Homo sapiens: one gene and its partners. The protein of the gene in region 3 interacts with the protein of the main gene of each other region in a biochemical or structural test. Each region holds a gene or a part of one and is shown on either strand. Other genes may lie near its edges. The genes, in order: DHX9, SMARCC2 and EWSR1.

The links.
Region 1: the proteins of EWSR1 (region 3) and DHX9 form a complex in vitro, tested with the Homo sapiens proteins (one study listed by BioGRID).
Region 2: the proteins of EWSR1 (region 3) and SMARCC2 form a complex in vitro, tested with the Homo sapiens proteins (one large-scale study listed by BioGRID).

What each region holds. Positions count from the first base shown.
Region 1 is NC_000001.11:182,845,760-182,849,412, forward strand, and holds part of DHX9 (ATP-dependent RNA helicase A), read left to right. Parts: intron 1-3,653. UniProt on the Homo sapiens protein: Multifunctional ATP-dependent nucleic acid helicase that unwinds DNA and RNA in a 3' to 5' direction and that plays important roles in many processes, such as DNA replication, transcriptional activation, post-transcriptional RNA regulation, mRNA translation and RNA-mediated gene silencing.
Region 2 is NC_000012.12:56,179,365-56,183,017, forward strand, and holds part of SMARCC2 (SWI/SNF complex subunit SMARCC2), read right to left. Parts: intron 2,716-3,653; coding exon 2,640-2,715; intron 2,472-2,639; coding exon 2,340-2,471; intron 2,234-2,339; coding exon 2,118-2,233; intron 1,738-2,117; coding exon 1,613-1,737; intron 1-1,612. UniProt on the Homo sapiens protein: Involved in transcriptional activation and repression of select genes by chromatin remodeling (alteration of DNA-nucleosome topology).
Region 3 is NC_000022.11:29,288,638-29,292,290, reverse strand, and holds part of EWSR1 (RNA-binding protein EWS), read right to left. Parts: coding exon 3,505-3,653; coding exon of another isoform or gene 3,501-3,504; intron 1,879-3,500; coding exon of another isoform or gene 1,788-1,878; exon of another isoform or gene 1,607-1,787; intron 730-1,606; coding exon 692-729; intron 155-691; coding exon 122-154; intron 1-121. UniProt on the Homo sapiens protein: Binds to ssRNA containing the consensus sequence 5'-AGGUAA-3'. Might normally function as a transcriptional repressor. EWS-fusion-proteins (EFPS) may play a role in the tumorigenic process.

The DNA of each region.
Region 1 (3,653 bases), on a different chromosome or scaffold from region 3:
AGTGTGGCTCACAGAACTCAGGAAAACCTACATTTACCAGTTTATTATAAAGAATACTACAAAATACAGTTGGTGAAATAAGTAGGGCAAGATATGGCGGAGGCAGCAGGGAGCTCCCATGCCCTGCCTCGAACACCATTCTTCAGGAACCTCCACCTGTTCGGCCATTTGGAAGCCCTCCAAACCCTGTCCTTTGGTTTTTATGGAAACTTCATTATTCAGTATTGATTAAATCGTTGGCCATTGGTGACTTGACCTTCAGCCCTTCTCACTTCCCCAGAGGCTGGGAGGTGGGACCGAAAGTTTCAGCCCTCTAATCTTTCCTTGGTGGTTCTGGTGACCATCCCCCCACACCTGAAGCTACCTAGGGCCTGCCAGCCAGCAGTCAACTCGTTAGCATACAGAAAGTCTCCACTTAGGAGATTATAAGGATTTAGGATTTCTATGCCAGGGAAATGGGATTGAAGACCAGATGTACTTTTTTTTTTTTTTTTTGAGATGGAGTTTCGCTTTTGTTGCCCAGGCTGGAGTGCAGTGGCATGATCTCGGCTCACCGCCACCTTTGCCTCCGGGTTCAAGCGATTCTCCTGCCTCAGGCAGGAGTATCTGGGATTACTGGCATGTGCCGCCATGCCCGGCTAATTTTGTATTTTTAGTAGAGACGGGGTTTCTCCATGTTGGTCAGGCTGGTCTCCAACTCCCAACCTCAGGTTATCTGCCCGCCTTGGCCTCCCAAAGTGCTGGGATTACAGGCGTGAGCCACTGAGTCCAGCCAGAGACCAGATAGGCTTTAAAGATAATATGACACTGTCTACTTGCTGTTTTCTGTAAGAAGTCAGCTATAATCAAATCACTCTCTCCCATATGTAATGTGGTAGTCTGTGTTTTTAAGATCTTTTCCTGTTATTTTTGGTTTTTAGTATTTTGTGTTGTGACCGGGCATGGGTTTTTTTGTATGTGTGTGTTCTAACTTGTTCAAGGTTTGCTGAGATTATTGAATCCATAGATTTATGTATTTCACCAACTTTGAGAGACTTAGCTATTATTTAAGATATTTTTTGTTTTATTTTTTCTTCTTTCCTCTTGGTGTTTATATTTATAAAGACTTGATATCCCACAGGTCCCTGAGGCTCTCTTTTTTTTTTCCTATCATTTTTTCCACTGTTTCTCAAATTGAATAATTTTTATTGATTATCTTCAGATTCTTTGATAGTTTTTTCTGTCCCTTCCATTTTGCTAAGCCCACCCAGTGTATTTCAGACACTACCTTTTTCACTTTTAAAATCTCCAGCTTATTCTTTTCTGTATGTTTTCTCTGGTGGCATTTCTTTTCATTCGTTATAAGTGTATGTTTGTAATATAAATATGGATTTCTTTTATGTCATGAAGCTTAATTCTAATAGCTGCTTTAAAATCCTTGCCTACTACTACTAACATCTGAGTCATCTCAGGGTTGGATTCTCTTGATAGGTATATTTTCTTGAGGTTGGATCACATTTTCCTCTTTGTGTATCAAATAATTTTTTATTGCATTCTGGGCATTGGAATATTATGCTGTGGAGACTCTGAATAATGTTATACTCCTCCAAAGAGCATTGATTTGGTTTTTTTGTTTTGTTTTGTTTTGTTTTTAATCAGGCATTTAATTTAACTGGACTCAAACTGCAAATGCTGTCTTTTGGATGTTAACTCAGATCTCACCTCAGTTTTCTGATCATTTAGGACAGCCATGGAAGAGTCCTTCAGGTCTCCTTTGCTGGGCAGCTTGGAATCTGCCCTGTACATGAGTGGTTTTCAAGGGTTAGCCAGAGATTTCAATATACAGAATTCGGGGCTCCTCCTCTCTGGCTGTTTCCTTTCCAGCATTCCCTCACTTTCTAGCAGCTTTGCTTTCCCTGAACTCTAATTCTGATTCTTCAGGCCAAAAAGATGGTTTCATTGGAGGTTTAGCTGCCTGGGATGGCTTCTCTCAGGCTAAAAGCTACAGTAAACTGGAATTAGACCCTTGATACTCCGTGCTTCCCCATTTTAACTTCTCTCAAGAATCTACCTGCTTTTTTCGTTCATTTTTTATTGCCTGCATATAGTTCTGGTGTGTTGTGTGTGTGTTTGTATTTTTTCCCCCTAAAGTTTATTTTACCTGCAGGAGGGTCAGTCTTACAGGAACTTACTTGGCTACAACCAGAAGTAATCCCCTAGGTGATTTTTTTATTATTGTTTTAACATGGCTCAGGTGTTTCCTATTAAATGCTCTGTGGATTTCCTACTTTCTTCCTTATTTCCTCTGTTCCAGCTACAGTAGCTGTACTTCTTCATAGGTCTTCAAATAAGCCCTCATCTTTCTGCCTCAAAACTTCTATACCTGAAGGACTCTTCCCCAGCTGTCCTATTTAACATTATAAACATTGTCACCCTCAGGTTACTTCCTAAACTCCTTCAATGCTTTATTTTTCTCCGTAACACTTACTTTTTAACTCAGTGTTTCTCAACTGGAGACCATTTTGTCCCCTCAAGGGATGTTTGGGGATGTATGGAGATATTTTTGTTGTTGTAACTCGAGGAGGCCACTGACATCTAGAAGGTGAAGGCCAGGGATGCTGCTAATGACCTACAATGCACTTGACAAACTCCTACAACAAAGAATTAACCAGCCTAAAATGTCACCAAGATGAGAAACCTTGTTCCAACGTAATTTATTTTTGTTTCATTGTATTAGAATGTAAGTTCGTGAGGGCAGGGATTTTTTTGTTTTTAGTTCGTTGCTGTGTCTCCAACATTTAGAATGGTTCCTGGTCTATAGCAGATACTTAAATGTTTTTTGGTTGACTGAGTAAATGAATGGATGAATTTGGAAAAAAAAATTATAACAACCCATTTCTACTTTTAACCCCACTGTATTATTAGTCCATTCTTGCATTGCTATAAAATACCTGAGACTGCATAATTTATAAAGAAAAGAGATTTAATTGGCTCACAATTATGCAGGCTTTACAGGAAGTGTGGTACTGGAATCTGCTTGACTTCTGAAGAGGCCTCAGTAAACTTAGAATGATGGCAGAAGGTGAAGGGGAAGCAGGGATGTCCTACATAGCAGGAGCAAGAGAAAGTAAAGGGGAAGATGCCACACACTTTTAAATGACCAGATCTCATGAGAACTCACTCACTGTTGCTAGGATAGCAGTACCAAGGAAAGTGGTACTAAACCATGCATGAGAAACCCACCTCATGATCCAGTTACTTCTCACCAGGCCCTACCTCCAACATTGAGGATTAAAATTTGACATGACATTTGGGCAGCGATACGTAACCAAACTGTTACCAGCTACCATCTTTATCTTACCTCCTCATTCTAGGGAAATCCTTTTTCATAATCACTTATTTCATCTGGAACTTACCCTTTCATGCCATAAATTGCATTTGCCAAAAGTGAGCATGTAGAGGATATTTTAAAATTTTTTTTGCTGTGGACAATTGTAGATGTGTATAAAAGAATAATATAGTGAAACTCCATGTTTCCGTCATCTGGCTGCAACACTTTCAATTTTACTCATTTCTAACTACTCCCCTTTCTTAGATTATTTTGGAGCATCCCAGACATCTTATTCATCTGTTAATATTTCAGTTTTTAACTAAAACATAATTCTTTTTTTAAA
Region 2 (3,653 bases), on a different chromosome or scaffold from region 3:
CTCTGTGGAAGAATGGTTAAGTGTTAAACATTTTTGAAAGCAGAGGATACTTTCCTCAACTGAATTCATATACATATGCTCAGGAGCAAACATAGAGAAGAGAGAGAGCTGATTGATGAGGAGGTAGAAGCCAGAACTCTTCTTGGTGGCAGCCCTAATCCTACCCCTGAAATACACTTCTGGAATACCTGGGGTGAGTCTACAGAATACAGACTGTAAACCAGTATTGGTGGAGCAATGTCTCCAAAGTGGGGTTCTAACATAGGACGCAAAAGATGATCCACTGCAACTCAGGGAGAGAATACAGAACTTCTCTTCATGTTTTTTGTTTTGTTTTTTTGAGACGGAGTCTCGCTCTGTCGCCCAGGCTGGAGTGCAGTGGTGCGATCTCGGCTCACTGCAACCTCCACCTCCCAGATTCAAGTGATTCTCCTGCCTCAGCCTCCCGAATAGCTAGGATTACAGGCGCCCACCACCACGCCTGGCAAATTTTTGTATTTTTCGTAAAGATGGGGTTTCACCGTGTTAGCCAGGATGGTCTTGATCTCTTGACCTCGTGATCCGCCTGCCTCGGCCTCCCAAAGTGCTGGGATTACAGGCGTAAGCCACCGCGCCCTGATTCTTCATGTTTGTTTTTATCATTCTTTACATTTTTCAATTTTTTAGATATGTTTGTGTTTTAAAACGTTCCCATGGTAGCGGCTTAACAGTACAAGTACATAATTAATGCATATATACATTTTTTTTTCTTTTTTTTTATTTGAGATGGAGTCTCGCCCTGTTGCCCAGGCTGGAGTGCAGTGGCGTGATCTCAGCTCACTGCAAGCTCCGCCTCCCAGGTTCACGCCATTCTCCTGCCTCAGCCTCCTGAGTAGCTAGGACTACAGGCACCCGCCACCACGCTCAGCTAATTTTTTTGTATTTTTGGTATAGACAGGGTTTCACCATGTTAGCCAGGATGGTCTCGATCTCCTGACCTCGTGATCCGCCCACCTCGGCCTGCCAAAGTGCTGGGATTACAGGCATGAGCCACCGTGCCCGGCCCTTTTTTTTTTTGAGATGGAGTTTTGCTCTTGTCGCCCAGGCTGGAGTGCAGTGGTACAATCTCGGCTCCCTGCAACCTCTACCTCCCAGGTTCAAGCAATTCTCCTGCCTCGGTCTCCCGAGTAGCTGGGATTACAGGTGCCCACCACCACGCCCAGCTAATTTTTGTATTTTTAGTAGAGATGGGGTTTCACCATGTTGGCCAGGCTGGTCTCGAATTCCTGACCTCAGGTGATCCGCCCGCCTCGGCCTCCCAAAATGCTGGGATTACAGTCATAAGCCACCGTGCCTGGCCATGCTCAAATATATTTTACTGTCAGAAACACATAATCAAAGAGTTTGGAGACAACTACTATCAGGCACAAAGCACAGTCCACAACTCAGATATGAATATACAGTTAGAGGATTTTCCAGGGTAATGACCGTAATTCCAATAACCAGCTAAATTTAAGGAAAAGATCCTGTAGACTGGGAGGTGGACCTGAGAAATCAGCTCACTTGGGGTTTGGCAAAGGAGAGTCAAGACGGGGAGTGGGGGTGGATCCCAGGAGCTCAGCCTGGCCTGTACCTGTTTTGGGAAGTGTCACCTCTTCTACATTGGGGACTGGTGAGGGCTCGTCCATGTCCTTTGTCAGGTCTTCTTGCTCCTCTTCTCTGTGGCCACGCTTTGACTTAGTGTAAGGTGTTGAGGGACTGGGAAGGAAAGAGAGTGAAAGAGAACCCAGTCATCCTTGGACAAGGAGTCCCTGGAAGTTGAAGTTCAAGGGAAGGGAAGTGACAGAGAATTCCAAGGGTAGAGCTGAGTACAAACAGAAACCAGTAATCACACAGTAATGGGAAGTGGCAAAGGCTTTTCACTTGATAAAGCTCTCTTTAAATGTACTAGTGGGGCCAGAACCAGAACTAACAACTGAGCAGCTAAAGATCTCCTCATCTTCCCTCTCAGGACACCTGCAGTATTATGGCACACCCAGGTCAGGGCCAGGTGGTTATAGGAAGGGATTTGTCTTTCCTTCCTTCAACATGATGTGGAGAGAATGGTGAACACGGGGGCAGGCTAGGGGCTGGCACACCCTTTCTTAGCATTTTTCTTCTTTGCTTCTGGGGTTGGTGAAGGAGAGGGGGAGCGCTTCCTCTTCTTATAGTTTCCCCCCTTCTTGTCCCGTCGATCTGAATCTGGGCTGTTCACCTATAGGATGGAGAATCAGGACAAATGTCAGCCTACAATCCCCACTGAAGATTTGTTCTGAGACTTATGCTAAGGGCGCCAGGAAAAAAAGAACAGGATTTGTCACCTCATCTGTCAGTGTCTTGGCTGAAATCTTCTTTCGGCGGGAGACAGGGTTTTTGTCATCATTTACTTCATAGTCTTCCTCATTCATCCATTCATTGAAGGTGTCGGTGTCCAGGATCCACTTTGCATGAACCTAAAGTACAAAGGCAGATCATGCTGCAGAGAAGCCTGGAAGCCACAGCTCTGTCTGGGGACCCTTAACAGAAAAAGCTCAAGGGCATACAAGCCTCTGTTTCACTTCCAAAGGGTAGACTGTTCCTGGCATTCTTTTTGGGGAAGAGGGGATACAAGAAAAGCTCACCTTCCTAGGTTTCTCAGGAGTTGGAGCATCTTCCACAGATGCCTCAATTTCACTCGCTGGGATCCACGTGTCGTAACTGCCATGGGAAATTGAGCACACAGTAGAATCAATGGGATAGAATTGTGGAAAAGTAAAGTGCAGATCTTTTACCCTTTCCATTTACAGAAAGTATTGGGTTCTTGGCTTATTTTTTTTGTATTCTATTCATTATAAAGTAGTAAAAGCACATTACGAAACATTTCAAAAATAGAGAACAAAAAGAATCACCCTTACGTAACTACTCTTGATACTTGTATATCTGTTTTTCCTCCACAGTAATTTTTTTTTTTTTTTGATACAGAGTCTTGCTCTTGCTCTGTCACCCAGGTTGGAGTGCAGTGGCGCGATCTCGGCTCACTGCAACCTCCGCCTCCCGGGTTCAAGCGATTCTCCTGCCTCAGCCTCCCGAGTAGCTGGGATTACAGGTGCCTGCCACTGCGCCCGGCTAATTTTTATATTTTTAGTACAGACGGGGTTTCACCATCTTGGCCAGGCTGGTCTCAAGCTCCTGACCTCGTGATCCACCCACCTCGGCCTCTCAAAGTGCTGGGATTACAGGCATGAGACACCGCGTCCAGCTGGGGTTTTTGTTTTTGTTAAGACAGGGTCTCACTTTGCTGCCTAGGCTGGTCTTGAACTTCCAGCCTTTAGTGATCCTCCTGCCTTGGCTTCCCAAAGTGCTAGTATTATAGGAGTGAGCTACTGTGCCTGGTCCACAATTTTCTTTTTACATAATCATAACCATACTAGATGATGTTTTTACATAATCATAACCATACTAGATGATATTTTACATGCTTTTTTTTTTTGAGACAGGGTCTTGCTCTATTGCCCAGGTTGAAGTGCAGTGGTGCAATCATGGCACAATGCAGACTCAACCTCCTGGGCTCAAGCAATCCTCCCACCTCAGCCCCCCAAGTAGCTAGGACTACAGGTGCATGCCACCATGCCCAGCTAATTTCTGTATTTTTTTTT
Region 3 (3,653 bases):
TGTCCTTGACAGCAAGAATATCACACTGGTCTATAAGGCTGCTGAACTCTACGCATGCATTTACCTCTGTACCATTAATTTACAAAGCACGATATGAAGCACAACTAGAATTCAAAATTACCTAGATCAAGATCTGGTCCTTCATCCATGGGTCCTGCCAACCAGGAAAGATCATATAAAATATTATTAGTGCACGTCTTGCAAGCTACAAACCTTACAAACACACATAGCTATCTACTATACCACCATTTGATGGGGATTCATTAAACTCAAAATGACCCGCACTGCTAAAATGGAGCAGTGTCTCTTTAACATTTGTGAAAGGTTTGCTAGGGTTTGCTTTTTTCCTTTGCTGGTTTGCTTCTAAACCATTAACCAAATACACTCTCAATGCTTATGTGCCAAATCAGTGTTAAATTTAAGTCAAAATTTTTCCTCTAAATAAACCAAATTTAAAAATTTATTCTCCCCCATATTACAGAAGCAGTTACTCAATACTTCAAGTTACCCTTTGTTTTGTAACCATAGGTTAACCTTATTAACCCCTAAGACAATGCCGGCAGTACCCATTAGTCTCTTTTGTATAGATCATTTTTAAACCACTTATGAAACTAATAAAAAAATTATAGTTTTCTAAAAACTGACTGCATTTTTTTTTAAACACTATCTATGGTAATACTCAAAAACTTACCACCAGGCTTATTGAAGCCACCTCGCTCTCCAGCGCTGCTGGGGGGATAAACGAAGAAATGAAGGCCTTTCCCTTTAAAAGCCAGTACCGCTCTGAGCCTTGGGGGGGCTCGTGGGGAAGAAGGGCACTGGCTAAACACATCTCCAAACAATGCATCTCTCTCATCTTGTCACTATGCCTTTCTTCAGGGCAGCTTGCTCAAATTTCCTCAATATACAACCTTGCTTGTCTGATTGTACACACCAGTGTGGTTGGTTCCTTTCATTTCGGGGGCTGGTATTAATAGTGCAATACTTGGCAAATTAGCAAGAAAAAATAGATCCCAAACACCCACCCCGTCAGGTGAAAAACCAGAAGAGCTTGGTATAGAGGGGAGGAGCAAGTGGGGGTTAACTGCTGTGATAAACCTTTCCATGTTCATAAAGGTGCACCCTCAACCTCTCCCAAGGGAGAGCCAAATGAGGCCCAGGGTTTCCTAACAAGTCACAGTATAATAAAAGCAGGAGACAACCACATTAAATTCCTACAACACACATCAGAGGACGCATCCAGCCAATCTTCAGCATAAAGCCATACATCTCAGGGCACGAATAGATTTAACAATCGCTGTGAAAGGAGAATTTACAACAAATACCAAGGCTCAACGGACTGGGGGTGCAACTTTATAGACATATCAGTTAGAATAATGACTATGGCCATGTAAAATTACTTAAAGAGGGGAGAGGGAAATATGAATTGGACTTTTTGGGTTAGATTTTGTTTTCTTTAAAATTAAATAAAGGCAGCTCCCCAGTGGGAGGCCCTGAGTTTTTTCTAACCAGTATTGCACCTTTAATACCTGAATATACAATTTCAAGCTGTTGCATGCAGCTTTGTTTCCTTTTTAAAAGTACACACCATAAAATGTTCTCTCTCTTTAAACACAAAAGTTTACACTTTAATGTTACACAATTCTAGAGTATTATACCTCCTCTGGTTCATTACCAAACAACAAGTATGCAGTTACCAAAGTTACAGAAGGATTCCATTTATACAATGAATACATTTTGTTAAAAATATTCTATGTATATTTTTCCTCTCCATATGGACACCGTGTCTAGTCCCACTTTTCATTATGCTGCCGGCTGAGTACTGAGTACGGGTACTTTTTAAGTATTGAAGTGTATACAAGGCTCTCACTTTGTAACCTGTAGCATATAAATGCGACAAAGCATGTTAAAAAGTTTCCACGTTTAACAGCCAATGAAAATATCAAAATACTGAGGCAATGAAAAAGGGCATGTTAACAACATTGAGTGCCTTACCTGTACAAGACACTGAAAACCATCACCACACCACAATAAAAAGGGGGGCAACGAGGGAAATGCCCGTCTATCCCCACAGGATCCGACAGACTGCTTCACAGTCTGTTGAAAAACCTATGGGGAAAGCCATGGTCTCTTCTATGGCTGCAAGAGAGACTTCTCATCCAGAAAGAGGGGCCCCCTCTACTAGCAAAGTCTAGCACAATTAGTAGGATTATAACTTCTGGAGTATTTAAATAAACTTGAAATTGTATTTGCAATTTAAAAATACTAGGAATTCTAGGTGATTTGAGACGTGATGATAGTACTTTCAAGTGTCTATGTCTATTTTAAAACATCCAAAAAGAAGTGAAACCTTTATAATAGAGTATTTTCCAAATCAGAAGATTGATTTTACTTCATACCGAATCATTAAATTTTTGCCTGTTGTCAAATGACTTTCTTCCAATAAAGATTTCACTAAAGACTTTCTTAAAGTTATGCAGAATATGCAAAATAGTACTGTCTTTCAGTAGTGAAGAGTATTTGCTAATATGGAAGTTAAAAATCAACTTTAATTTTGAAGTTCATTCTGTTTTTTAAAAAATGCTATTTAATTTTTCCTTGAATAGTGGCACACCGTATCAAATGTAAATATCTAACATTCTGCATAACTTTTTTTTTTCTTTACCAGTTTATATAGGGACAGAACACACACAGAACTAAGCCTTCTGGATTATGTTAACCACCAATATTATAGCTCACCTTCATCAAAGTACAGACACCAGATAGGGAAAAGGGGATGGGAGAAGGGAGGGGAAGGGCAGGCAGAGGCAGCAGGGTTATGTCATTGATCTAAACAAAGTTTTCTAAACCAGATTGTGCCATCAATCAAAATGGTCAAACCGATTTAGACTTTCAACATCTCCAGTAGGAAGTGAGCCCATAATTATATACATTACTCTGCAAAATGCTATTGGATTTTTCTTTGCTCCATCCAAACTCTATGTAATCAGGTGCACCTCAGGCTATAGTTTAAGGATTATGGGACCAAAATCTTCATATGTTCAACGATTCTGAGTACAAACAGAAGTTGGGGACAAACACTGTGGAAAACAGCTGCATTCCTTTTCTGCAGTATATACACCAGGTATTTCAAGACAACCATTCAAAGGCAGTTAGTTAACAACTTAGGGTCATTAGAAGGGTTGTGTGTGTTCCATCCCAAATCTACTACCCACAGAGGCTTCTCACCTCTGGAAACCATGAAGGGAACTGAAAGCTCTGGTTTCAAAACCATTCTTTGTTCTCCCCGACCCAACGAAGTATACTGGCAGGGAAAGAAAATAAACTGCCACTTAATATATGCCACAAAGATGACATTTCCATGTTTTAGAAGATGGCTTGAGCTCAACAGATTGTCCATGGAAATGCAGAAATTAATTTCTTATGTCTTTCAGTCCCTTCTTTCCACTGAAAATCCTATGGATGAAACAAAATTAGGTAAAAGGAGAAAAGGTTTGCTCTTACCCCATTCCACCGCGTCCTCCTCCCCGCCCACCTCTGCTCATGCCTCCACGATCAAATCCCCCTCTTCCCCTGCCCCGGTTATCAGGGCCACTCATGCTCCGGTTCTCTCCTGGTCCGGAAAATCCTCCAGACTCCTGCCCATAAACACC